3 separate regions of the Homo sapiens genome follow, and regions 2 and 3 are each linked to region 1. The links come from fine-mapping of genetic effects on gene expression. A gene starts in region 1. Each other region holds a variant in brackets. All regions are shown on one strand. Distances are from middle to middle. Region 1 holds the start of DEGS1 (delta 4-desaturase, sphingolipid 1). Region 2 overlaps NVL (nuclear VCP like). Region 3 overlaps NVL (nuclear VCP like).

Evidence for each region. PIP is the estimated chance that this variant, and not a neighbour inherited with it, causes the effect. A credible set is the group of variants that fine-mapping cannot tell apart.
Region 2: its variant is the best candidate, but not a certain one, in a credible set for the expression of DEGS1 in whole blood (Lepik 2017, PIP 0.79).
Region 3: its variant is the best candidate, but not a certain one, in a credible set for the expression of DEGS1 in monocytes (Fairfax 2014, PIP 0.70).

The regions. Positions count from the first base shown.
Region 1 is chr1:224,179,660-224,187,949 of GRCh38, forward strand. It overlaps DEGS1 (delta 4-desaturase, sphingolipid 1), which reads left to right and starts at 3,581. Exons shown (of 3, transcript NM_003676.4): 1 at 3,581-3,759. The coding sequence starts at 3,678. LOC124900425 (small nucleolar RNA SNORA72) reads left to right here; the gene lies at 1-108. RefSeq lists enhancers at 2,757-2,906, 2,760-3,590, 3,167-3,256, 3,591-4,420, 5,894-5,953 and 1 more and silencers at 3,407-3,606, 3,707-4,086, 4,247-4,326, 5,628-5,922.
Region 2 is chr1:224,231,877-224,240,166 of GRCh38, forward strand. It overlaps NVL (nuclear VCP like), which reads right to left. Exons shown (of 23, transcript NM_002533.4): 20 at 4,630-4,706; 21 at 1,325-1,413. Among named protein-coding and RNA genes, the nearest start is that of MIR320B2, 21 kb to the right of the region's middle. The variant C/A (reference allele first, on the strand shown) is at 3,536.
Region 3 is chr1:224,222,314-224,230,603 of GRCh38, forward strand. It overlaps NVL (nuclear VCP like), which reads right to left. Exons shown (of 23, transcript NM_002533.4): 23 at 5,032-5,357. The coding sequence ends at 5,313. It overlaps LOC101927164 (a long non-coding RNA gene), which reads left to right. Exons shown (of 3, transcript NR_110668.1): 2 at 1,101-1,515; 3 at 5,113-5,730. Among named protein-coding and RNA genes, the nearest start is that of MIR320B2, 31 kb to the right of the region's middle. The variant A/G (reference allele first, on the strand shown) is at 5,494.

The DNA of each region.
Region 1 (8,290 bases):
TTTTGTAATAGTCAGGACAGGATAAACAGTCGCTATATTAAGACCATGTACGTGTCCCTAGACCTAGTTCTTTCCCTACGTCTGTTTTTATAAATGCTGGTGATAAACCAGGTCTGATTAATATATAATCATTTTGTGTGATTATGTAACGGCTATAATTCTAGGTTATCTTTGGTCAACCTTAAGAAAAATGGCAGTATATGTAATGACTTTTGCAAATGATCAGTGCTAATTTGCAGACTTTTGTTTAAAGAGGGTTTAAACAAAATAAGAAAATTTCATGATTACCAGTTGCTATTAAATGAATTGTAACTTTTTTTAAAAAAAAAGAATGTCCAAGCCAGGTGTGGTGCTCATGCCTGTAATCCCAGCACTTTGGGAAGCCAAGAAGGGCAGATCACTTAAGGTCAGGAGTTCAAGACCAGCCTGGCCAACATGGTGAAACCCCGTCTCTAGTAAAAATACAAAAAGTTGCTGGACGTGGTGGCACACACCTGTAATCCCAGCTACTCGGGAGGGTGAGGCAGGAGAATCGCTTGAACCCAGGAGGCAGAGGTTGCAGTGAGCCAAGATCTTGACACTGCACTCCAGCCTGGGCAACAGAGCGCAACTCCATCTCAGAAAAAAAAAATGGTATATCCAGATTCACATTTTTTTTCAAACTCTGCATTTTTCTTTCTTTCTTTTATTTTTTAATGTTTTTGAGACAAAGCCTCACTCTGTCACACAGGCTAGAGTGCAGTGCCACAATCTCAGCTCATTTCTCAGCTCATTGAAGCCTCGACCTCCTGGGCTCAAGCAATCTTCCCACCTCAGCCTCAGCAATAGGTGGGACCACAAACATGGGCCACCACGCCCAGTTAAATTTTTTTTTTTTTTTTTTGAGACGGAGTCTTGCTCTGTCGCCCAGTCTGGAGTGCAGTGGTGCGATCTCGGCTCACTGCAAGCTCCGCCTCCCGGTTTCATGCCATTCTCCTTCCTCAGCCCCCCAAGTAGCTGGGGCTACAGGCGCCCCCCCCACCATGCCTGGCTAATTTTTTTTGTATTTTTAGTAGAGATGGGGTTTCACCGTGTTAGCCAGGATGGTCTGGATCTCCTGACCTTGGAGACCGCCTTGGCCTCCCAAAGTGCTGGGATTACAGGCATGAGCCACCATACCCGGCATAATTTTTGTATTTTTTATAGAGGTGGGTTTTTGCCATGTTGCCCAGGCTTGTCCCGAACCCCTGCCCTCAAGCGATCCCCCTACCTCGGCCTCCCAAAGTGCTCAGACTACAGACGTAAGCCTCCGCACACCTTTTGGACTGGTGTGCCAGTTCACACATGCCTGTGATAGCAACTGCGTTCTGAACTGCAGGGATACATTTACTTGTCAGCACCTGAAAACTTCCTCCTGAGTTGAGTCCAATTATCAGCTTCATGTGCCATCTGCCAATCCAGATGAAACTTGGCAAATACAAAGCTGTCCTTTTCCAGGTGACACTCCCCACCTTCTTTTTCCTCCACCATTTCATTAACAACTAAAAAGCTCCTGCATGATCAGACCTGTGTATCTATCCATCATCAAATCCCACTCCTTTTTCGAGACTGGGACCCTCTGGAGGCTGACCCAGCCACGCATTTGCTAGCATGCCCTGCAGACATGACCCTCGCTGGGCTCTGATCAGCCTTCAGGCCTCCACTCCAGGTGTCACTGTTCTGTCTCCCCTCTGCTCTCACAGCCTTCTCTGCTAGATGTCTCAGCCGTGCTGGCCCTCTCTATTTCAGAAGTGAATGTACTGAGAGGGTCTTAGGGACTTATTAATAATGCTCCTGGGGTCGGATGTAGTAGCTCATGCCTGTGATCCCAATACTTTGAGATCACTTGAGCCCAAGCGTTTGAGACCAGCCTGGGCAACAAGGTGAGGCCCCATCTCTATCAAAAATTCAAAAAAGTAGCCAAGCATGGTGGTGCACGCCTGTGATCCCAGCTCCTCGGGAGACTGGGGTGGGAGGATGGCTTAAGCTCAGGTCAAGACTGAAGTGAGACATGAGGCCACCACTGCACTCCAGCCTGGGCAACAGAGCAGGACTCTGTCTCAAAAAAAACAAAACCCACTATAACCATAATACTATTATCACACTTAAGAAATTCATAATTCCTTAATATCATCACATATCCAATTGATATCTGAGTTCAATTATTTCATGTCAATGTTTTTAAACTATTTCAATCAGAATCTAAATGAGGTCAACACGTTGCAATTGGTTGGTATGTCTTTTAAACTCCTTTTAATCTACAGGTTTCTCTTTTTTTGCCTTGAGTTTCATTTATTAGAGAACCCAGACATTGTCCCATATAGTCTCCCAGAGTTGGATCTTGCTAGTTTCATCCCCACGGCCTAGTTTAACACATTCCTCTGTCCTTTCTATTTTCTTTTTTTTTTCTTGAGAGGGAGTCTCCGTCTGTCCCCCAGGCTGGAGTGCAGTGGCTCCGTCTCAGCTCACTGCAACCTCTGCCTCCCAGTTCGAGCGATTCCCCTGCCTCAGCCTCCTGAGTAGCTGGGATTACAGGCGCCTGCCACTACGCCCAGCTAATTTTTTTATATTTTTAGTAGAGACGGGGGTTTCACCATCCTGATCAGGCTGGTCTCGAACTCCCGACCTCAGGTGATGGACCCGCCTCTGCCTCACAGAGTGCAAGGATTACAGACGTGAGCCACCGCACCCGGCCAAATGTCCTTTCTATTTTCTATAAATTAACAGTCAGATCTAGGGGCTCGATCAGATTTGTGTGTGTGTGTGTGCCGTGTGCGCGTGCACAGCATGTTCTTTGACTAGGAGGCACACCTGCTTTGGTTATCTTCTTTTTGTAATCTTTAAGTTGCTCTTTGATGTAGACGTGGTAACTAATGTTGAAACAAAATTAGTTTCGTTTCAAAACCTTTCTTTCAGGAAGAGGTTGTGGTTGATTACTTCTGCGACAGGTAGATGCAAGGTTGAGCAATCATCTCTTAACAGAAGTGGTCACACTAGAATAATTCAAGCACAACAACAAATCCCACATCATCACCCCCTCTTAATAATGGTGTTTTCTTTTTACTTGATTAGCTTTTAATTGTCACGCACTCTGCATTTTTTCCCTGAGGTATTATTTCCAGAAGGCAGCGAAATATGACTCAATGGCTAATTTGCTTTTTAAAAATTAAACAAAACTTAGGCCAGCTGCCATTTAAGAAGGGCTCCGGGGCCTCCAGACTCGGTGTGACCGTAGCCGTGCCCGGTGCTCCCCTCGCGGAGGCGTTAGGGCGGCAGGTTTATCTCACTTGAGACCATTCCTTCCTTTTTCATCTTCTCCGGGCTCCGGCGCAGCAGGCCGCAGGGGCGGGCACTCGCAAGAACGCGGCATCCTGGATGGTGGCCGAGTCACCGAAGCTCAGAACCCCGCGTCCCAGAATCGCTGAGAGCCGGCCCCGCACGGGGGCCTGGGAGCGCCACGCGCCCTCCACCCAGAGAGGCAGGCGGGCGGGCCGGGGGGGGCGGGGCCTCGGGACTCCGCCCACGCCTCCGTCTCCTCCGCGCTCCGCCACAGCCGGCCGACACCACACCAGCCGGGGAGCCGCCGCCGCCGCCGCCACCTCTGAGCAGCCGGCTGGGAGCGAGAGCCGACAGCTAGTCTGCAAGCCACCGCTGTCGCCATGGGGAGCCGCGTCTCGCGGGAAGACTTCGAGTGGGTCTACACCGACCAGCCGCACGCCGACCGGCGCCGGGAGATCCTGGGTGAGGGCCAGCGGGCGCCCCGTTATGTGCGTGCGTGGCCTCCCGGCGCCGGGGCGCGCTCTCCCCTCGCGGGCCCTGCGCGGTCGTGGGCGCCGGAGGCCCGTTAGCAGCCTGCTCCCCGTCGCGTCCCGTCGCCGCTCGGGCCGCCAGCCCGCGGGTCAGCGCGGGAGAGGCTGGGCGAGGAGCGGGGGGAGGGACGGGTCCTCGGAGCCGCGCAGCTCCGACCCTTCCGCGAAGAGGCGCAGGCGCGTCCCCGAGCGCGGGAGTCCCCGCCAGGCCCACGCCGGCCGGTTGGGGCGAAGGGTGTCCCCGGCTGTGCCAGCCTTGAGTAGATCTTTTCGCTAGAAGATTCCTGTGCCCTCAGGTGGGCGCCCTTTCCTCTCACCACTCCCTCTCCTCCGGAGCGGGCCGAGGTGAGCGGGTGCCGGCCTTGGGGCTGCCTGAGTGCTAGGCAGGGTGTGGTCCTGGGCATCCTTGGGCCTACCAGCGAGCCCTGCTCAGGGTGTCGGGCGCCGGCGGGCAGTACTGGCGGGGGCGGCCGCAGTCCCGGCCTTGGGCCCGTTAAGGGGGCCGGCGTCCCTCCATATGCCCCCCGGGGCTTCTCGGACTTGATGGGCCCTGGTCGGTTCACGCCGCTTGTCCCATTGATCCTCACGACAAGCCTGGGACGTAAGAACGGCGGATTCGTAGGCATTTTTCATCCATCTCGGTTTTGTGGATGAAAAGACTGAAAATGGAAGACTTGCCAAATAAGGAAAATATGTGGCGTGGCCTGCTGGTCCCCTGACAGCTAATTGAGAGGCCTTAACTCTCCAGAGGATTCGGGCCTTCTGTGTTACATAGAGAATGCTCATCTCTCCCAGGCTACTCCTAATATGCTAGGGATTGTGTGGAATGCTTTACAAACATTACCCAATTTCATCCTCTTGGTAATTCTACTTGGTTGGTATTATCGCTGTTTTAAAAAATGAAATAAGAACGCGTGACTAAATGCTAGGGGGATTCTAATGCGCATTCGGTTGCCTCTTCCAGAGCACGTGTTTGTTTTTTGTTTGTTTGTTTTTTGAGACTGCACGTGTTTGTTTTTTGTTTGTTTGTTTGTTTGTTTTTTGAGACTGAGTCTCACTCTGTTGCTCATGCTGGAGTGCAGTGGCGCGATCTCCACTCGCTGCAACCTCTGCCTCCTGGGTTCAAGCGATTCTTCTGTCTCAGCCTCCCGAGTAGCTGGGATTACAGGTTCCCACCACTACGCCTGGCTAATGTTTGTATCTTTTTTAGTTAGAGACGGGGTTTCACCATGTTGGCCAGGCTTATCTCGAACTCCTGACCTCAGGTGATCCGCCCGCCTTGGCCTCCCGAAGTTTTGGGATTACAGGCGTGAACCACCGTGCCCGGCCAGAGCACGAGCTTTTTAACCTCTGTTGAGGAAACGGGGACCGGTCACGGTAGCTCAGGCCTGTAATCCTAGCACTTCGGGAGGCTGAGGCGGGAGGATCGCTTCAGCCCAGAAGTTTGAGACCATCCTGAGTAACATAGTGAGAGCCCCCCGTTTACACACACACACACACACACACACACACACACACACTTTTTTTAAATTGAGGAAACGGTGAGTTGAACATGAGCAATTATTCCTTATATATAGTATTTCCTTAGTTTTTCTTCTCAACATTCATTTGCCCAGTGAAAAGAAAAAGCAAGTAGCTGGGACCACAAGCGCACACCACCATGCCTGGTTGATTTTTCTATTTTTTGTAGAGATGGGTTTCTCCGTGTTGCCCAGGCTGGTCTTGAACTCCTGGGCTCAAGCAATCTGTCCGCTTTGGCCTCCCAAAGTGCTGGGATTTTAAAGGCGTAAGCCACTGCACCCGGTAACTTTGGGTTCTTGAATTCCCTTCCTCCTCTTCTTCCTCCTCCCCTACACTCCATTAGAGAAAGGGTCTTGCTTTGTTGCCCAAGCTGGAGTGCGGTGGTTGTTCACAGGCATGATGATCACTGCAGCCTGGGCTCCAGTGGTCCGCATACCTCAGCCTGCCAGTAGCAATTTGTTTGGCACATCACTTACACATACTTGATATGAGATAGCATGATACTTTTTTGAGACGGAGCCGCACTCTGTCACCCAGGCTGGAGTGCAGTGGCCCAGTCTCGGCTCACTGCAACCTCTCCCTCCTGGGTTCAAGCAGTTCTGCCTGCCCCAGTCTCCCGAGTACCTGGGATTACAGACGCCCGCCACCATACCTGGCTAAGTTTTTCTATTTTTATTTTTAGTAGAGACAGGGTTTTGCCACATTGGCCAGGCTGGTCTCAGATGATGCGCCTGCCATGGCCTCCCAAAGTCCTGGGATTACAGGCGTGAGCCACCCTGCCAGGCCACATATGATATATTTTATCAATGCCTTATCTACATGTTACATAGGAATAATCTAGCGTCCTACCTGTGTAAAAACCAACTCTGGAATACTGAAACTGAGCTACTTAATATTCTGAAAATCAGGACGGGTGTGGTGGCTTTTTTTTGCCTGTAATCCGAGCACTTTGAGAAGCTGAGGCAAGAAGATCGCTTGAGGCCAGTTCAGAACAGCCCCATCTGCACGAGAAATTAAAAAATTAGCTAGGCGTGCATGCCTGTCCCGCTACTCAGAAGGCTGAGGCGAGAGGAACACTTGAACTCAGGAGTTCGAGGCCAACCTGGGCAACATGGCAAAACCCCATCTCTACCAAAAAAAAAAAAATTTAATTAGCGGGACATGGTGGCATGTGCCTGTGGTCCCAGCTACACAGAAGGCTGAGGTGGGAGGATTGCTTGAGCTGGGGAGGTAGAGGCTGCAGTGAGCCGTGATTGCCCCACCGCGTTCCAGCCTGGGCAACAGAGTGAGACTGTCTCAAGAAAAAGAGATGAAGGAAGTGAGAAGGTGCTGATTGATACTTACCTCACACTGAGCCTTTTTTCCCCCCACAGACTTATCACTGAACCATTTCACTGGGAAAGTAAAAGGACCACATATTTCTTGGCCGGGCATGGTGGCTCACGCCTGTAATCCCAGCACTTTAGGAGGCTAAGGTGGGCGGATCATGAGGTCAGGAGATCGAGACCATCCTGGCTAACACGGTGAAACCCCATCTCTACTAAAAATACAAAAAATTAGCCGGGCGTGGCGGCAGCCACCTGTAGTCCCAACTACTCAGGAGGCCGAGGCAGGAGAATGGCGTGAACCCGGGAGGCAGAGCTTGCAGTGAGCTGAGATGGTGCCACTGCACTCCAGCCTGGGCGACAGAGTGAGCCTCCGTCTCAAAAAAAAAAAAAAAAAAAAAAGAAGGACTACATATTTCTCAATGAAAATACAGTGTACAATGTTTTCCATGCAGGTGTAAATACTAACTCATGTTCTGTTTCAGGGTGGGAGATGGAATAACCTGTAGAAAGAATCTTTAGATTTGTTTAAATTATACACAAATGATAAGAGATCTTTCTGAAAGTATTGACTTTTTGGCGGGGGAGGGAAGGGGCCTGATAGAACAACCAACAATTGTACACTTTAAGTTTACATTTAGAGTTCACATTAAAAGTTCATTTACAAGGCATCTGTTTGAAATTCGTGAGGATGAGCTGGGCTGGGTGGCTCATGGCTGTAATCCCAGCCCTTGGGTGGCTGAGGTGGACAGGTCACCTGAGGTCAGGAGTTCAAGACCAGTCTGGCCAACATGGTGAAACCCCGTCTCTACTAAAAATACAAAAATTAGCTGGGTGTGGTGGTGGGCGCCTGTAATCCCAGCTACTGGGAAGGCTGAGGCAGGAGAATTGCTTGAACCCAGGAGGCAGAGGGTGCAGTGAGCTGAGATCTCACCATTGCACTCCAGCCTGGGCAACAGAGCGAGACTCCGTCTCAAAAAAAAAAAAGAATAAATCACAAGAAATGGTTCCTTCACTGTTATACTTTAACATGATACAGCTTTTTAATGTTTTATTTTTTGAGAGAGAGTCTCACTGTGTTGCCCAGGCTGGAGTGCAGTGGTGTGATCATAAATTCTTGGGCTCAAGTGATGCTCCCGCTTCAGCATCCTAAGTAGCTGGGACTACAGGCTTGTGCCACCTCACCTGGCTAATTTTTTTTATTTTTGGTAGAAATAGAATCTGTTTGCCCAGGCTGGTCTTGAACACTGGGCCTCAGGCAGTCTTTGTGCCTCAGCCTCCCAAAGTGCTGGATTAATGGTGTGAGCCACAGCACCTGGCCAATAGCTTTATTGAGATTATAATTCAACTATCATGATTTATTCATTTAAAGTGTACAGTTCAGTATTTTTTAGTATATTCACAGAGTTGTGCAGCTGTCACCACCATATAACCTTAGAACATTTCATCATCACCAAAAGAAACCCTATACTCATTAGCAGTCCCTCATATCCCCTGCTTCTACCTAGGTAACCACTAATCTACTTTGTGGCCTATAGATTTGCTTATTCTGGACATTTCATATACATGAAATCATAAAATACCTGATCTTTTATGATTGGCTTTTACTTAGCATAA
Region 2 (8,290 bases), 52 kb after region 1:
AATTAAGTGGGTGTGGTGGCACACGCCTGTAGTCCCAGCTACTCGGGAAGCTGAGGCAGGAGAATTGCTTGAACCAGGAGGTGGAGGTTGCAGTGAGCCGAGATCGCGGCACTGCACTCCAGCCTGGGCGACAGAGCAAGACTCAAGTTTAGAAAATAAATAAATAAATAAATAAAAATACAGACAGGGAGGCCGGGCGCAGTGGCTCACACCTGTAATCCCAGCACTTTGGGAGGCCGAGGCAGGCGGATCACGAAGTCAGGAGATCGAGACCATCCTGGCTAACATGGTGAAACCCCGTCTCTACTAAAAATACAAAAAAAAAAATTAGTCAGGTGTGGTGGCCGGCGCCTGTAATCCTAGCTACTTGGGAGGCTGAGGCAGGAGAATGGCATGAACCCGAGAGGCGGAGCTTGCAGTGAGCCAAGATCGCGCCACTGCACTCCAGCCTGAGTGAGAGCGAGACTCTGTCTCAAAAAAAATAAATAAATAAAAATAAAAATAACAAAATAAAAATAGAGACAGGGTTTTGCTCTGTCACTCAGGCTGGAGTGCAGTGGTGCAATCATAGCTCATTGCAGCCTCGAACTCCTGGGCCTCACCCTCCCAAGTAGTTAGGACTATAGGCATGCACCACCATGCCAGTCTAATTTTTAAATTTTTTATAGAGATGGCATCTTGGTTTGTTGCGCAGGCTGCTCTCAAACTCCTGGGCTCAAGCAATCCTCCTGCCGCAGCTTCCCAAAGTGCTGGGATTACAGATGTGAGTCACCACACCCAGCAGACAATTTTTTTCCCCCATATGCACTCAAATAATAACATTAAAGACACTGTCAAATGTGAAGGATGGTGCAAAGCTTTTGAGATGGCCCCAAAGCATCACATAACACAATACACAGATTTTATATTTTGAAAGGAAAGTCTCAACATATGGAAAGTTATTCCAAATTTCACTTCTCTTGTGTATTTTCTAAGCTCTCCAATTTAGGCTGCATTTTAACAGGCAAGTAGATATCACCTTAGCAAAAGAATACGTTTTTCCAGAATTGATAAGCAGCCCAGACTCATGATGAAGACAGCGAATGGATCCATTTGCCTATAGGGACAGTACTCTTTATTAGAGAGGTACTAAATAACTTTGCTATTATTATAATTGTCAGCAACAGAGGTTACCTAATATTTCAGAACAGCTTCTAACAGTCTTATTAGAAAAACGTTAGCTTTAATATCATAGATAATAGACACTAGAAAATGGTCATTTTCCAGGGCAACAGTGGTTTTAAGTATCATAATTAGAATTGAGAGATTCTGGAGAGAATTGTACCTTTTTCATTTCCACTCTTCTGTCTTGCCATTTCCTGTCTCAGGGCACAGATAGAAGCTTCTCGTACCAAAGCAGAGAGATCTGCGCCCCTACAATAAAATAATAGTTATCTACTTATTCTTAGATACTGCAAAATCCCAGAAAAAAACCCGGAAAACAGTTTTCATATAAGTCATATATTAAATAATCAGGAGAAAAAGTGACCAATAAAGATGAGAAATAAATTGATTATCAATCAATAGAAAAGAGCTCTTAGCTTTTATATAAGATATTTCTAGGCCAGGTGCAGTGGCTCACGCCTATAATCCCAGCACTTTGGGAGGCCGAGGTGGGTGGATCACTTGAACAGGAGTTTGAGACTAGTCTCAGCAATATGGAGAAATGCCATATCTACAAAACTACAAAAAAATTAGCTGGGCATGGTGGCATGCACCTGTAGTCCCAGGCACTGGGGAGGCTTAGGTGGGAGGATCACTTGAGCCCGGGAGGTGGCGGTTGCAATGAGCCAAGATCGCACCACTGCACTCCAGCCTGGGTAACAGAGTGAGACTCTGTCCCAATTAAAAAACAAAAACAAAAAAAAACTAAACTCAAGAAGAAAGGAAATTATGGAGGAAACAATACAATGCATAAAGGGCTAAAGTGCTGACTAGCATATTCATGTATTACATAATGTCTAAAGTAAGCTTATTAAAAAGTCATTTATGGGCTGGGCGCAGTGGGTCATGCCTGTAATTCCAGCACTTTGGGAGGCTGAGATGGCAGAATTGCTTGAGCCTGGGGGGCAAAGGCTATAGTGAGCCTGGGTGACAGAGTGAGACCCTGTCTCAAGAAAACCCCCCAAAAAGTCACTTGTGGCTCCAAGTTCAGAAGGGAAAAATACAAACCCTGGAAAGTCTTTAATGCACCTGATTCAAGTTAAAACTGAATGAACACATCATAAGTTACTTAAAATATGACAAATACAAAACAGGCCTTCACTTATTTAATTAGTTCATGTAATAATATGCTGAGTCAGCACAGTTCTGAGTTCAATGAAAGACACTCATGTTGACTGGAGTTTCACTACATTACAGCTGTAACAGGGTTCTTAGAGATTATATGAGAAAGAGTTTGAGTTTGGGGATAAAAACATCACTTCTATGATTCACAAGTCTTGGAAAGAAAAGATGAAAATGAAAAATAAATTTTTTTAAAAAACCTCATCTCTGGACATTAAACTTATTATATAATGTTGATAATCCCCATACTATATAACTTTTTTTTTTTTGAGATGGAGTCTTGCTCTGTCACCGAGGCTGGAGTGCAGTGGTGTGATCTTGGCTCACCGCAACCTCTGCGTCCTGGGTATGAGTGATTCTCCTGCCTCAGACACATACTATATAAAAGTAAAGACCCACAGAGCTTAAATTTTTAACTGAATCTGGTGTTTTGTTGGCTAAATGTTAGGGTTATAACATTATTTAATAATCACATACCTGCTGGGGTATTCATTCCTTCCCATACTATGAAATCTAACATTGGTGGAAACACCATTAACTAACACAAGCAGATAGCTATAGACTGTAGTGGTGTAGTGTCTCTCAAACTGTAATTATAGTGGCATGAAAATCCAAAATGTACACCATTCAACTTTAGCCCTAACCCCTTCACAGACTGATAGCCTACTTGGTATATCCAAAAGATTTAGCCCAGGGCAAGTTCCGCCACCAAAATCACCTGTTACTCACCGAAAATCTTTTCAGATTTGAGCACTTAAAGCTGTATTATTATTATTTTTTTTGTAGAGATGGGGTCTTACTATGTTGCCCAAGCTGGTCTTGAACTCCTGGCCTCAAACAATCTGCCTGCCTTGGCCTCCCAAAGGGCTAGGATTACAGGTGTGAGCCACTGCTCCCACCCTTAAAGCAGTAAACTACTCAAGTAGTAGTCTCCTAAGCATAAGGCCATTTCTTTATTTTTAATTTTATTTATTTTTATTTTTTGAGATGGAGTGTCGCTCTGTTGCCCAGCCTGGAGTGCAGTGACACGATCTCAGCTCACTGCAACCTCCACCCGCTGGGTTCAAGCAATTTTCCTGTCTCAGCCTCCCTAGTAGCTGCGATTACAGGTGTGCACTACCATGCCCGGCTAATTTTTGTAGTTTTAGTAGAGACAAGGTTTCACCATGTTGGCCAGGTTGGTCTCAAATTTCTGACCTCAAGTGATCTG[C/A]CCACCTCAGCCTCCAAAGTGCTGGGATTACAGGCGTGAGCCACTGTGCCTGGCCACATCATTTAAATAAAGACTCGTATGGATTTGATTCCTAATTAGGGGGTGAGGCACATCCTATTTAAGGGGAGGTAGAGGCATTTACATCTGCCCCTCACCACCCCTGCCTGAGACTCTGATCAGTTTCTCTTCACTGAGAATCACTGCTACATTGGAAGGACATAATAGAGAAAAAAAAAGGGCCGGGTGTGGTGGCTCACTGTAATCCCAGCACTTTGGGATGCTGAGGCATGAGGGACTACTTAAGCTCAGGAGTTCATGACAAGACTGGGCAATATGGCGAGACCCTAAAACTACAAAAATTTTTTAAAAAAATTAGCTGGGGATGGTAGCATGCACCTGTAGTCCCAGCTATCCAGGAGGCTGAGGTCAGAGGATTGCTTGAGCCCAGGAAGTCAAGGCTACAGTGAGCCATGATCATGCCACTGTACTCCAGCCTGGGTGAAAGAGGGAAACCCTGTATGGAAAAAAAAAAAAGAAAAAAAAGAAAACAAAAAGCCGGAGGGGGCATTGTCTCTGTTAGTTAAACTTGAGTTTCATTTCCTCCCTCTGTGTCCCCAAATTGGGAAAGTTAACAAACAAATTTACTTCAAAACATATGAAGAAAAACTAATAACTGTAACAACACAAACATAGGAAGGATGAAGGCAGAAATGTCAGATTTCCTGATGTTACTACAGGCTATGTGGAGGTGAAAATGCATCCTGAGGGCTGCAAAATGTGGCACTTGTAGATTAGTCTCTTTTAAATGCTGACGCACCAGTACAATTTGTAAAGGACAGCAGTGCTGGTTAGGGTAGGTTAAGTACCAAGAGTCAACATATGAAAGGACTCCCCTGTTCCCAGGAATTCCTTCAGGGCCTCCAAATGTGCAGTCTCTTCTCTAAGAAGGGAGATGCCAGACACTTTATGTGCTTCATGGGATACCTCATTTAATCCTCCCAACAATCTGCTGAGGTGAGCATCATCACCCCTCATTTTATAGATGAGGAAATTGAACCCCAGAGAGTGAATTGACTTAAGATTTAAACACTTACGTATAGCAATCACAGCGAAGGTCACCAGCAATTGCTTCCAAATTTACATCTGCATCCAGTGGTGGTTTGGTACCATTCTAAGTAAGAGAGAAAAATGATTTTTCATTGGAGCTTTAAAGACCATGCCGGGTGCGATGGCTCATGCTTGTAATCCCAGCACTTTGGGAGGCCAAGGTGGGCAGATCACCTGAGGTCAGGAGTTCGAGACCAACCTGTGGAACATGGTAAAACCCCATCTCTACTACAAATACAAAAATTAGCTGGGCGTTATGGTATGCACCTGTAGTCCCAGCTACTCGGGAGGCTGAGGCACGAGAATTGCTCAAGCCCTGGAGGTGGAGGTTGTAGTGAGCAGAGATCATGCCACTGCACTCCAGCCTGGGCGACAGAGTGAGACTGAGTCTCAAAGATAAAGACCATATTCATCTACATAATAGGTTCTTAATAATGGCTGTTTGACTAAATGAGTATAACTGACTTCCAGACTGGTGCTGTTAAGGTTTATACAAATTTCAATGTTGAGAAATGAGGCTAAGAAGCAGATTCCAAACTTGAGAAAGCTAAAGGCAAACAATTTATGCTCATGAAGTTTGAGGAATTTGTGTACAGCTGCAGCAAATACTAAACACCATCAACAAGAATGAAAACTAGCACCTCGATCTTTCCAAAGGTGAAGAAACACATTTCCTTTCCAGCTTAAACATGGCAAATACTTAAGCAATGCTTAGTGTTGGTGTGAGGCTGGCTAGGACGGAAGAAATAATACTGAACCTGGCCAGGAGAGAAGGAGCAGTATCTGCTCTAAAATAAAAGCACAAAGCACTCTAAGCTCAGTATATTCTTTCTTAATCATTTAGCTAACACTCAATCTTGATTTTGGTGCCAATTCCCCTTCAGCTCATTTCAAGACACATTAGCAATGACAAGTATGTAACTTAGAACTCTTAGAATTTCTCATGAGACTGGATGTAGAGGAAAAAAAACCAACCCAGAATTTTAACACTTAACCCAGTAACTTGCATGCATACATTATGTTTAATAATATTTTTAGTGACAAACTGCAGAGGCAAACAAAACAAGCTTTTTCTTCCCTCCAGGGTATTGCTCTGTCGCCCAGGCAGGAGTGAGTGGAACAACCACAACAGACTTGACCTCCTCGGCACAAGAGATCCTTCTACCTCAGCCTCCCGAGGAGCTGGAACTACATGCCACCATGCCTGGCTACTTTTTTTTTTTTTTGAGACAGTCTCGCTCTGGAGTGCAGTGGTGCGATCTTGGCTCACTGCAACCTCTGTCTCCTAGGAGCGATGGGGTGGCGTGTGCCTGTAATCCCAGCTACTCGGGACACTGAGGCAGGAGAATCACTGGAACCCGGGAGGTGGAGGCTGTAGTAAGCCATGATCGCACCATTGCACTCCAGCCTGGGTGACAGTTGGAGAGTTGGAGACTTGGTTTCAAAAAAAAAAAAAAAAAAAAAAAAGAAGAAACACACACAAAAGTGAATAAACACAAGCCATTAAGCTTTTCTCTTTTCTTTTTTTTTCTTTGAGACAGGGTCTGGCTCTGTCATCCAGGCTTAGTGCAATGGCGCAATCTCAGCTTACTGCAACCTCCACCTCCCGGGCTCAAGCCATCCTCCCACCTCAGCCTCTTGGGTAGCTGGGACTATAGGCACCCACCACACACCTGGCTAATTTTTGTATTTTTTGTAGAGATGGGGTTTCACGATGTTGCCCAGGCTGATCTCAAACTCCTCAGCTCAAGCGATCTGCCCGCCTTGGCCACCCGAAGTGCTGAGATTACAGGTGAGGGCCACAGCACCTGCCCAGTAAGCTTTTCTTAGTGTAAAACGTCAGCCTGGCAAAGTGCTCCAGGCACAGGGTTCGGCGACCTGGCTGAGAGGACTGGAGCTGCCGGCCTTGTGCACTAGTTACCTGTTGCTCTGCCCACACTCACATACCAGCGTCTCACTGCCTCCCAGCAGGGCATGTTCAAGAACTGCATAAATTATACATCTGTTAGTTGCTATCACTAAATAAAATGGACATGTTATCTACCACAGGTTCAAGAAACAGTTAATTTCCCATTCAATCCATTTTGACCTGGGACACAAACTATGATCTTAGGCAAACAATCTTGTGCTTTTTTCTCTAAGTAATAAAACTAAAGGGTCAGAATGTAGGATTGCTAAGCATCTTTTAGTGTAAACAATTTTCAACCGAGTCAGGATAGTGGTCAATCCTGGGGGCAGGTAGAAGTGGGTAGTGGCTGGAAGTAGAAGGGCAGCTTTTGTCGGTGTGGGAATGTTCTATTTTATTGTGGCAAAACATACAAAAAACTGACCATTTCAACCATTTTTCTGTGTACAGGTCAGTGGCATTAAGTCCATCCACATTGTTGTATCACCCCTATCCGGCTCCAGAACTCTTTTATCTTCCCAAAGAAAACAATGCATCCATTAAACACTAACTCCCCATTCTTCCTGCCCCCGCCTCCCAACCTCTGGCAGTCACCATTGTACTTCATAGTTCTATGAATTAGACTTGGAGTGTTCTCTTTCTTGATCTGGAGACTTTGTAACAATTCATGGAGCTGGACATTTACCACTTTTTAATTTCTTTCTTGAATCTCTAAATCTACTTTACATTTACCACTTTTCTGTAGGTGTATCATACTTCAATAAAAAGACCTAAACAGTGCAAGTAACACTGGGCGAGGAATTAGAAAACCTGAGTTCTAAAGTTCAAATTTGCAACTGAATGGCCCTTATAGAACTTTGTTAATCTTTATTATTTAATTTTTTAAAGTATCTTAATAGATAAGTATCTTATTTCCAGATGAGTATATATAATTTTGTGCTATATTTGAGAGGGGAGGGGGGCATCAGTGAACATATAATAGTGATTTCTTAAAATGAAGACTAGCGTAGACTTTCTTGCTATGGTGGTGGGGCTGCCACATTATGTAGGAGCCCTTGTTAGGTGCTTTCTATGATTTTAAGAACCTATCAACTTACCTCGACTGTCACACTGTCACATTAACTGTACGGATCTTCCCTAAGGACACTCCGCGTGCTGTTAGACAATCTAATCTCAAACTATCCAGTGCCCTGTTTTAATCAAAAGCTGAATCATAAGAAGACAATTCTTTTATACTTCTCAATATCTAAATTCTACCCTTGGGTTAAGCTGGACCTCCACAAGGTCCTGTGCATCCTCAGAGTGCATTTCTTGGACCTTCATCAAATTGTATTTAATGAACTGGCTTTGTGTAATACCCTCAGTTTATATTAAGAAAATGACAAGCCTCAGTCCCAAGAGGCTTATTGTGTTTGTGTCAGAAATACCGTTAAAGACATTGTGCATCGCATCTTAGTGTTCTCTTTGTGAGGACCCAGAGGAGGAATTTTTCTTTTTTCTGTCTCGCTGTGTCACCAGGCTGGAGTGCAGTGACGCAATCTCGGCTCACTGCAACTTACGCCTCCCAGGTTCAAGCGATTCTCCTGCCTCAGCCCCGAGTAGCTGGGATTACAGGCATGCGCTACCACGCTGGGTAATTTTTTTTTTTTTTTTTTTTTTGAGACGGAGTCTCACTGTCACAGGCCCAGGCTGGAGTGCAGTGGTGCGATCTCAGCTCACTGCAACCTCCGCCCCTCAGGTTC
Region 3 (8,290 bases), 43 kb after region 1:
GGGGATTCATGTTGACCAGGCTAGTCTCAAACTCCTGACCTCAGGTGATTTGCCTGCCTCGGCCTCCCAAAGCATTGGGATTACAGGCATGAGCCACTGTGTCTGGTTCATATGACAAAGTCAAACTTCTATTACCTGGTGAGCAAACATTAAAAATTCTCACCTGGAGGAGCTGTGCCCCAGCAGTCTAATTTGGACAAACATGTTGTTGAAGAACAGTTCATTCACTTCACTTTATTCAATGCTTCCTGCATGCCAGAATCCGGGCTGGGTGCTACAGAGACACTGACTGACAGAATCCTTGCCCTTGGCCAGGCACAGGTGCTCACGCCTGTAATCCCAGCACTTTGAGAGGCTGAGGTGGGTGGATCACTTAAGTCCAGGAGTTCAAGATCTGCCTGGTCAACATGGTGAAACCTCGTCTCTACTAAAAATACAAAAATCAGCCGGGTGTGGTGGCACGCGGCTGCAATCCTAGCTACTCGGGAGGCTGAGGCAGGAGAATCCCTTGAACCTGGGAGGCAGAGGTTGCAGTGTGCCGAGATCATGCCACTACACTCCAGCCTGGGCAACAGAGGGAGACTCCGTCACCAAAAAAAAAGAAAGAAAAAGAAAAACAAATGCTGATAATAGTGATAAGCGTAAGTCTCATAATCCAAAGCAAAAGTGATAAGGTTAGAGTCTGAATCATGAGCAATACCATCTCACCCAAATCTATTTGGCTTCTCAGCTTTGGAAGGTGAGTAGTGCAATTTCAAATAGTGAGGGATTTGTCCAAAAAATGTATCCAAATCTGTTCAGTTCCTGAGTTCAAACAGTGAGATCTAGAATAGTGACAGATACAAAGTATAGAATACTATACTTTTACCTAAGTTATATCTACTTATACTTTTTAGGGTAATAAGGCATTTTACAACATTTTTACCTTTTGGAAATAAGATCTTCCAGTAAATACTACTTGGACATGTTTTCAGCAATAACCTACATACAAACATGAGAGACCACCTGCTTCTTCCCACTGACACCAGCCCCTCCCTTATCCAGGCCTTTGTTCTCTGCTCAGGTCATTTACCTCCTTCCTTCATCTTCTTTGCCTTCAGGATTCCGCTGACACATTGCATTCTTGGGAGAACCTTCCAATTCCAATTATGGACTAGCTGCTCCTACCCTGTGCTCTTCGCTTGGTGACTATTCTTATCCCTTTTCAGCCCTTCTCACACTGTTTTGTGACTGTCTCTTTATCTGTATTAAGTTGGATATGAATTTGGCTCCTTTCACACAGACCAAAATATAAATAGCTTAAGCAATATAAAGATCACACACACAAGTGAGGCAAATGACCATCTGAGGGTTGAGGAAACTCTGCTGCAAGGGTTGCCCACGATCCTGGTTTCTTGTGTTTTATTACTTTGTCATTCCCTAGGATGTTGTCTCCATTTACAAGGCCAAAACAGGTTCATCATCAGCTCATCACTCTCTAGTCCCGGGAAGGGCAGCATGGAGTTAAAATGACAGGTAGCACCTTCTTTTTTAAACAAGTTATGACTTTTCAAGGACATAGCCAGGGTCTTTGCTTCTGGGAGAAGGTGTGTTGAGTTCAATGTAGGCTGCCCTGAGTTAATGATGGGTTAATGCAACCCAAGTCACTTCCTTATAAGGATGTAACCAGAAGCTGTTCCCATCGCTTCTGTTTATATTATACTAGCCAGATGTTTGTTAGTCACTTTCCTGGCAGCAAGAGCCCTTCTTACTAAAAGGTAGAAGAAAAGAATGGACATTATAGGGCGATAAGCTCTCTGCCACACACACCACACTGGGCATTAAGTTCTGAGTTTGTTCACCATTATGTTAGTAATGCTCAGTACAAAGTGTTTAATGAAATGGCTAAATCTTTGACAGTGCTAGAACAGAGGACATAATTCCGGGAGTTTCTGAACAGAGGACTGGATCTTTTTCACAAGAGAAAGAAAAGTTAGACCGCTGTAGACCAGAATTCAGACTGTTCCGCGAGTCCCCTTGAACAGGCTCTGAACCTTGTTCTTTTTGATGATATGGGGATAACTCTATTTGATCCCTAGTATGAGTTGGGAGCGTTAAGATAACATTTGGCAGTGTGTAGTACACAGATCATGCTGAAAAATATGATCTTCCCTTCCATTTGCAGAAGTGCTGGCAACATCCACTGTCACACTACCTGTCGCAGTATCTGCCTGCTGTTCAACATGTACCATACCTGACTGGCAAAGCCAACGAACACGCAGCCAGTCTGCTCTCTTATGCGTTCTACATTTTATGTCGAGGTTAAGCTAAACTACCAGCAAGTTGGATACTTAGACCTAACATTTAATAGTCAAGAAGATTTTTGCTTTTTCTCATAACCCACATCTATGATATACCTGACTGTGTTTCTCAGGATTGGGTGGATGTCAAGCAGAGTTGAATCTGCTCCTCAAATTTAAGACCTTCTGGTGCATATTCCAATTTTCCCTTCATTCTTTTTTTTTTTTTTTTGAGACAGAGTCTCACTCTGTCACCAGGTTGGAGTGCAGTGGCACGATCTCGGCTCACTGCAACCTCTGCCTCCTGAGTTCAAGCAATTCTCTTGCCTCAGCCTCCCGAGTAGCTGGGACTACAGGCCATGCCACCACACCCAGCTAATTTTTGTATTTTTAGTAGAGACGGGGTTTCACCATATTGATCAGGATGGTCTTGATCTCTTGACCTCGTGATCCGCCCGCCTTGGCTTCCCAAAATGTTGGAATTACAGGCGTGAGCCACCGCACCCGGCTTCCCTTCATTCTTAATCACCTACCTTTAGTATGTGATCCTGATTTGCCTTTTTTTTTCTTTTTTGGTGTTCCCTCTTCTGGTGTCCTAAGGTACCCTCTTCTTCATGCCCTTTCACTGGGCATGGTCATACTCTGCTGAGATGTCTGAATCCTTCTGCGAACTCCTCAGAAAAACGACTGTGTTGGCTGGGCACAGTGACTCACGCCTGTAATCCCAGCACTTTGGGAGGCCAAGGTGGAAGGATAACAAGGTCAGGAGATCGAGACCATCCTGGCTAACACGGTGAAACCCCGTCTCTACTAAAAATACAAAAAATTAGCCGGGCGTGGTGGCAGGCACCTGTAGTCCCAGCTACTTGGGAGGCTGAGGCAGGAGAATGGCAGGAACCCGGGAGGTGGAGGTTGCAGTGAGCCGAGATTGCACCACTGCACTCCAGCCTGGGCAACACAGCAAGACTCCGTCTCAAAAAAAGAAAAAAAAAAAGACTGTTTTATTGACCTTTGTAACCCTGATTTGCTTTTAGTAACATTTTTTCACCACATTCTTTTTGTAAATTTTTTTTTTTTTTGAGACAGAGTCTCACTCTGTTGCCTAGGCTGGAGTGCAGTGGTGCGATCTTGGCTCACTGCAACCTCCGCCTCCGGGTTCATGCGATTCTCCTGCCTCAGCTTCCTGAGTAGCTGGGATTACAGGTGCCTGCCACCACGCCCGGCTAATTTTCATATTTTTAGTAGAGACGGGGTTTCACCATGTTGGCCAGGTTGGTCAAGAACTCCCGACCTCAGGCGATCTGCCCGCCTTGGCCTAGTGCTGGGATTACAGGCATAAGCCACCACGCCTGGCCTTGTAACATTTTTTTTTCTTTTTGTAGAGATGTGGGGGGTCTCACTATGTTGCCCAGGCTGCTCTCGAACTCCTGAACTCAAGTGATCCTCCCACTTAGGCCTCCCAAACATGCTAGGATTACAGGCATGTGCCACTGTGACTGGTCCACATTCTTAAAAGTAGCCTAAAAATTTTTGTAGAATGAGGTGAAGTAAAAATTTAAGAAGAAAGAAAAGTAGGTAACCCGACCCATCTATATATAACTTCCGGATATATTGTGAGCAACACTGTAAATTATGAGTTGAACACAACAAAAATCAAGCCCTTCACAAAGTATTGCCTAGGGACTCATCAAACATATAGAGGCCAAAGGAGAGTCAAATCTGGGACAGTTTGAATATCATAATGATAATAATGGATAATATATTAAAAATAGTAATACTTGACTTTGATGAGGAATGGACTTTATAGAGTTTCAAAGTAACTTCCCATAAAATACACATACATTACAAAGTGAAAAAAAAAGAGTAAAGAGTAACTTTGTAGTGTGAGAAACCTGGAAGAACTACCTCAAGTGATCACAGTGAACATCATGAGTAACAGGACAAACTGAAATCGCATGCCACATGACAAGCGCACAGTGTCACTTTGTAATCTGCCAAAGATGCATAACTTGAGTCTAATCACAAGGAAAACATCAGACACATCCACACTCAAGGAATTTTACAAAGTAACTGGCCTGAAACCTTCACAAGTGTCAAAAGTCAAACCTGAAGAAATGTTCCACGCTTAAAAGAGATTAAAGAATGTAGCAACTAACTGCAGTGGCCTCCTTTTAAAGCAGTGGTCCCCAACCTTTTAGGCTCAGGCACTGGTTTCGTGGAAGATAATTTTTCCACAGACAGGGTCAGGGGAGGTGGTTTCAGGAAGAAACTGTTCCACCTCAGATCATCAGGCATCAGATTCTCATAAGGAGGGTACAACCTAGGTCCCTCAAGTGCACAGTTCACAACAGGGTTCACGCTTCTATGAAAGTCTAATGCTGCCACTGATCTAACAGGAGGTGGAGCTAAGGCAGTAATGCTCGCTCGCCCACCACTAACCTCCCACTGTGCGTCCTGGTTCCTAACAGGAGACAGATAGGTACCTGTCTCCAACCTGGGGGTTAGGGACCTGTTTTAAAGGACATTATCAGGACAACTAGAGGAACGTGAATGGAGGAGGATTAGATGGCAGTGATGTATCAATGTATTAATTCCCTGACTTTGATGGTGGGTTATGTAGGAGAATATCTTCAAGTGTAGAAAATACACATGACAGTATTTGGGAGTGATAGGGCATCAGGTTGGCACTTATTCCTAGATGGTTGTGGAAGGCGGGGGAGGAGATCTCTGTAACTTTTCTGTATAGTCAAAATAGTTCAAAGTAAAAGTTTTATTTGAAAAATGTAACAGTCATTTTATTTCAGCAGTTTAAAAATTGTCCTTTTTCTTAAAGAGGAAGAAGGCATTTTCACACAAGGCTGGCCAGATGGGAAGAATCTTCAGCTTCAGCTTCAGCTTGGCCTCATTCATTTGAAAATAAAATGTTTACATGAGGCCGCGCCTGTGTCCAGCTGAAAGTGGGTCCTTCAGAGCGTGTGGGGGATTCTCTGCCGGCTTGATGGGCTAGCTCCTCTAAGCCGGCTGCTGGAGACATCACCGGCTGAGGGACTCCTGCAAACGTTCATACATGATTTGATCCTGAAAGGAGGGAGAACACAGAATACAGAGACCGTCACTGCTTGTTTTGGGCTGAATGGTGCCCCCCAAAATTCACATGCTGCAGTCCGCACCCGCAGGACCTCAGAATGTGATTGTAACTGGAGAGAGGGTCTTT[A/G]TAGAGGAGACTGGATTAAAATGAGGTCATACAGGTAGACTCTTATCCAATATGACTGCTCTCCTTACAAAAAGAGGGGATTAGGGCACAGGAGGGAAGAGCATGTGCGCAGAGGGAAAAGCACATGCAGGCGCTGGGAGAAGACAGCCATCAGTGAGGACAAAGGCTCCAGAAGAACCAATCCTGCCCAACACTCTCCAGAACTGTGAGAAAATAAATTTTCCACTTTTTAAGCCACCCAGTCTGTGGTACTTTGTCATAGTAGCTCCTGCTGACTAACTTACTGTTGAAGAGAGGTGATATTTTACCTTCCTGCATCTAAATCCTAATCTAAATCCTACACATGCTCCTTTCCACAGGGGACTCCATGACATTCACAATCGTTGACTCAAGTTTTCCTAAAAAATCAGGTCAAGAGTCTTATGTCTATCTAATTAGTGAAGAAAGCACAATTCTAAACTACACTGAATCCAGATGGAAAGGAGGCAAAGGCAGAAGCTTCTTTTTTTGTTTTTTGAAACGGAGTCTCACTCTGTCGCCCAGGCTGGAATGCAGCGGTGCAATCTCGGCTCACTGCAATCTCTGCCTCCTGGGTTCAAGGGATTCCCCTGCCTCGGCCTCCTGAGTAGCTGGAACTACAGGTGCGCACCACTACGCCCGGCAAATTTTTTGCATTTTAGTAGAGATGGGGTTTCACCATGTTGGCCAGGATGGTCTCAAACTCCTGACCTCATGATCCACCCGCCTCGGCCTCTCAAAGTGCTGGGATTACAGGTGTGAGCCACTGCGCCAGGCCGGGAAAGTAGAAGCTTCTTACACTACATTAACATTCATAAGAAACTGCCAGAATGGGCCGGGCGCGGTGGCTCACACCTGTAATCCCAGCACTTTGGGAGGCTGAGATGGGTGGATCACGAGGTCAGGAGATCGAGACCATCCTGGCTAACATGGTGAAACCCTGTCTCTACAAAAATACAAAAAAATTAGCTGGGCATGGTGGCGGGCGCCTGTAGTCCCAGCTACTCGGGAGGCTGAGGCAGGAGAATGGTGTGAACCTGGGAGGCGGAGCTTGCAGTGAGCCGAGATCGCGCCATTGCGACAGAGCGAGACTCCGTCTCAAAAAAAAAAAAAAAAAAAAAAGAAATTGCCAGAATGTTTTCCAGTGTGGTTGTATCTACATTTTCAGCAACAATGTATAAGAGTTCCAGGCCAGGCGTGGTGGCTCAGGCCTGTAACCCAGCACTTTGGGAGGCTGAGGCGGGCCAATCACCTGAGGTTGGGAGTTGGAGACCAGGCTGACCAACATGGAGAAACCCTGTCTCTACTAAAAATACAAAAAATTAGCCGGGTGTGGTGGCACATGCCTGTAATCCCAGCTACTCGGGAGGCTGAAGCAGGAGAATAGCTTGAACTCAGGAGGCAGAGGTTGTGGTGAGCTGCGATTGTGCCATTGCATTCCAGCCTGGGCAACAAGAGTGAAACTCTGTCTCAAAAAAATAAATAAATAAATAAATAAATAAAAAGAGTTCCAGCTGTTTCATATCCTTGCCACCATTTAGTGTTGCCAATATTTTAAATTTTAGTCATTGTGGTAGGTGTGTAGTAGAATCTCACTGTGGTCAAATTAAAAAAAAATTTTTTTTTTTGAGACGGAGTCTCAATCTGTCGCCCAGGCTGGAGTGCAGTGGTGCAATCTTGGCTCACTGCAACCTCTGCCTCCCAGGTTCAAGCGATTCTTCTGCTTCAGCCTCCTGAGTAGCTGGGACTACAGGTGCGCAGTAGCTGGGACTACAGGTGCGCGCCCAGCTAATTTTTGTATTTTTAGTAGAGATGAGATTTCACTATATTGGCCAGGCTGGTCTTGAACTCCTGACTTCGTGATCTGCCCGCCTCAGCCTCCCAAAGTGCTGGGATTACAGAAGTGAGCCACCGCGTCTGGCAAATTAACATTTTAAATGTTGGGTGGCAATTCCACTCCTGTGTATTCATCCCAAAGAAATACTTGAAGTGTGTTTTTTCTTCTGTGTTTATTTGTTTGTTTTTGAGACAAGGTTTCGTTCTGTAACCGAGGCTGGAGTACAATGGTGTGATCATGGCTCAGTGTAGCCTCAACCTCCTGGGCTCAAGTAATCCTTCTGCCTCGGTCTCCTAAGTAGCTGGGACTACAGGTGCATGACACCATGCCTGGCTAAGTTTTAATTTTTTTGTAGAGACAGGGTCTCACCATGTTGCCCAGGCTGATCTTGAACTCCTGGGCTCAAGCCATTCTCCCACCTCTGCCTCCTGAGTAGCTGAGATAACAGGCATAAGCCCCTGTGCCCAGCTCCAGAGTGATTTTTTTTTAACCCTTCTCCCACCTATGGTGAAGATGTTTTTATTTCCCTGAAATGTATGGGTAAGTCCCTATGGCTTAGTTTGGGTACAGTCTAGCTCCAAGAAATACAAAGCCATTTATCAAAAAGCGTAGAGTAGGTCAAATAATACTTGAATCAGATGATTAAAATTCTGAGATTGTGGGCTGGGCGCAGTGGCTCACGCCTGTAATCCCAGCACTTTGGGAGGCCAAGGCGGGTGGATCACGAGGTCAAGAGTTTGAGACCAGCCTCACCAATATGGTGAAACCCTGTCTCTACTAAAAATACAAAAAATTAGCCAGGCATGGTGGTGCGCACCTATAGTCCCAGCTACTCAGGAGGCTGAGACAGAAGAATCGCTTGAACCCAGGAGGCAGAGGTTGCAGTGAGCCAAGATCATGCCACTACACTCCAGACTGGGTGACAGAGCGAGACTCTGTCTC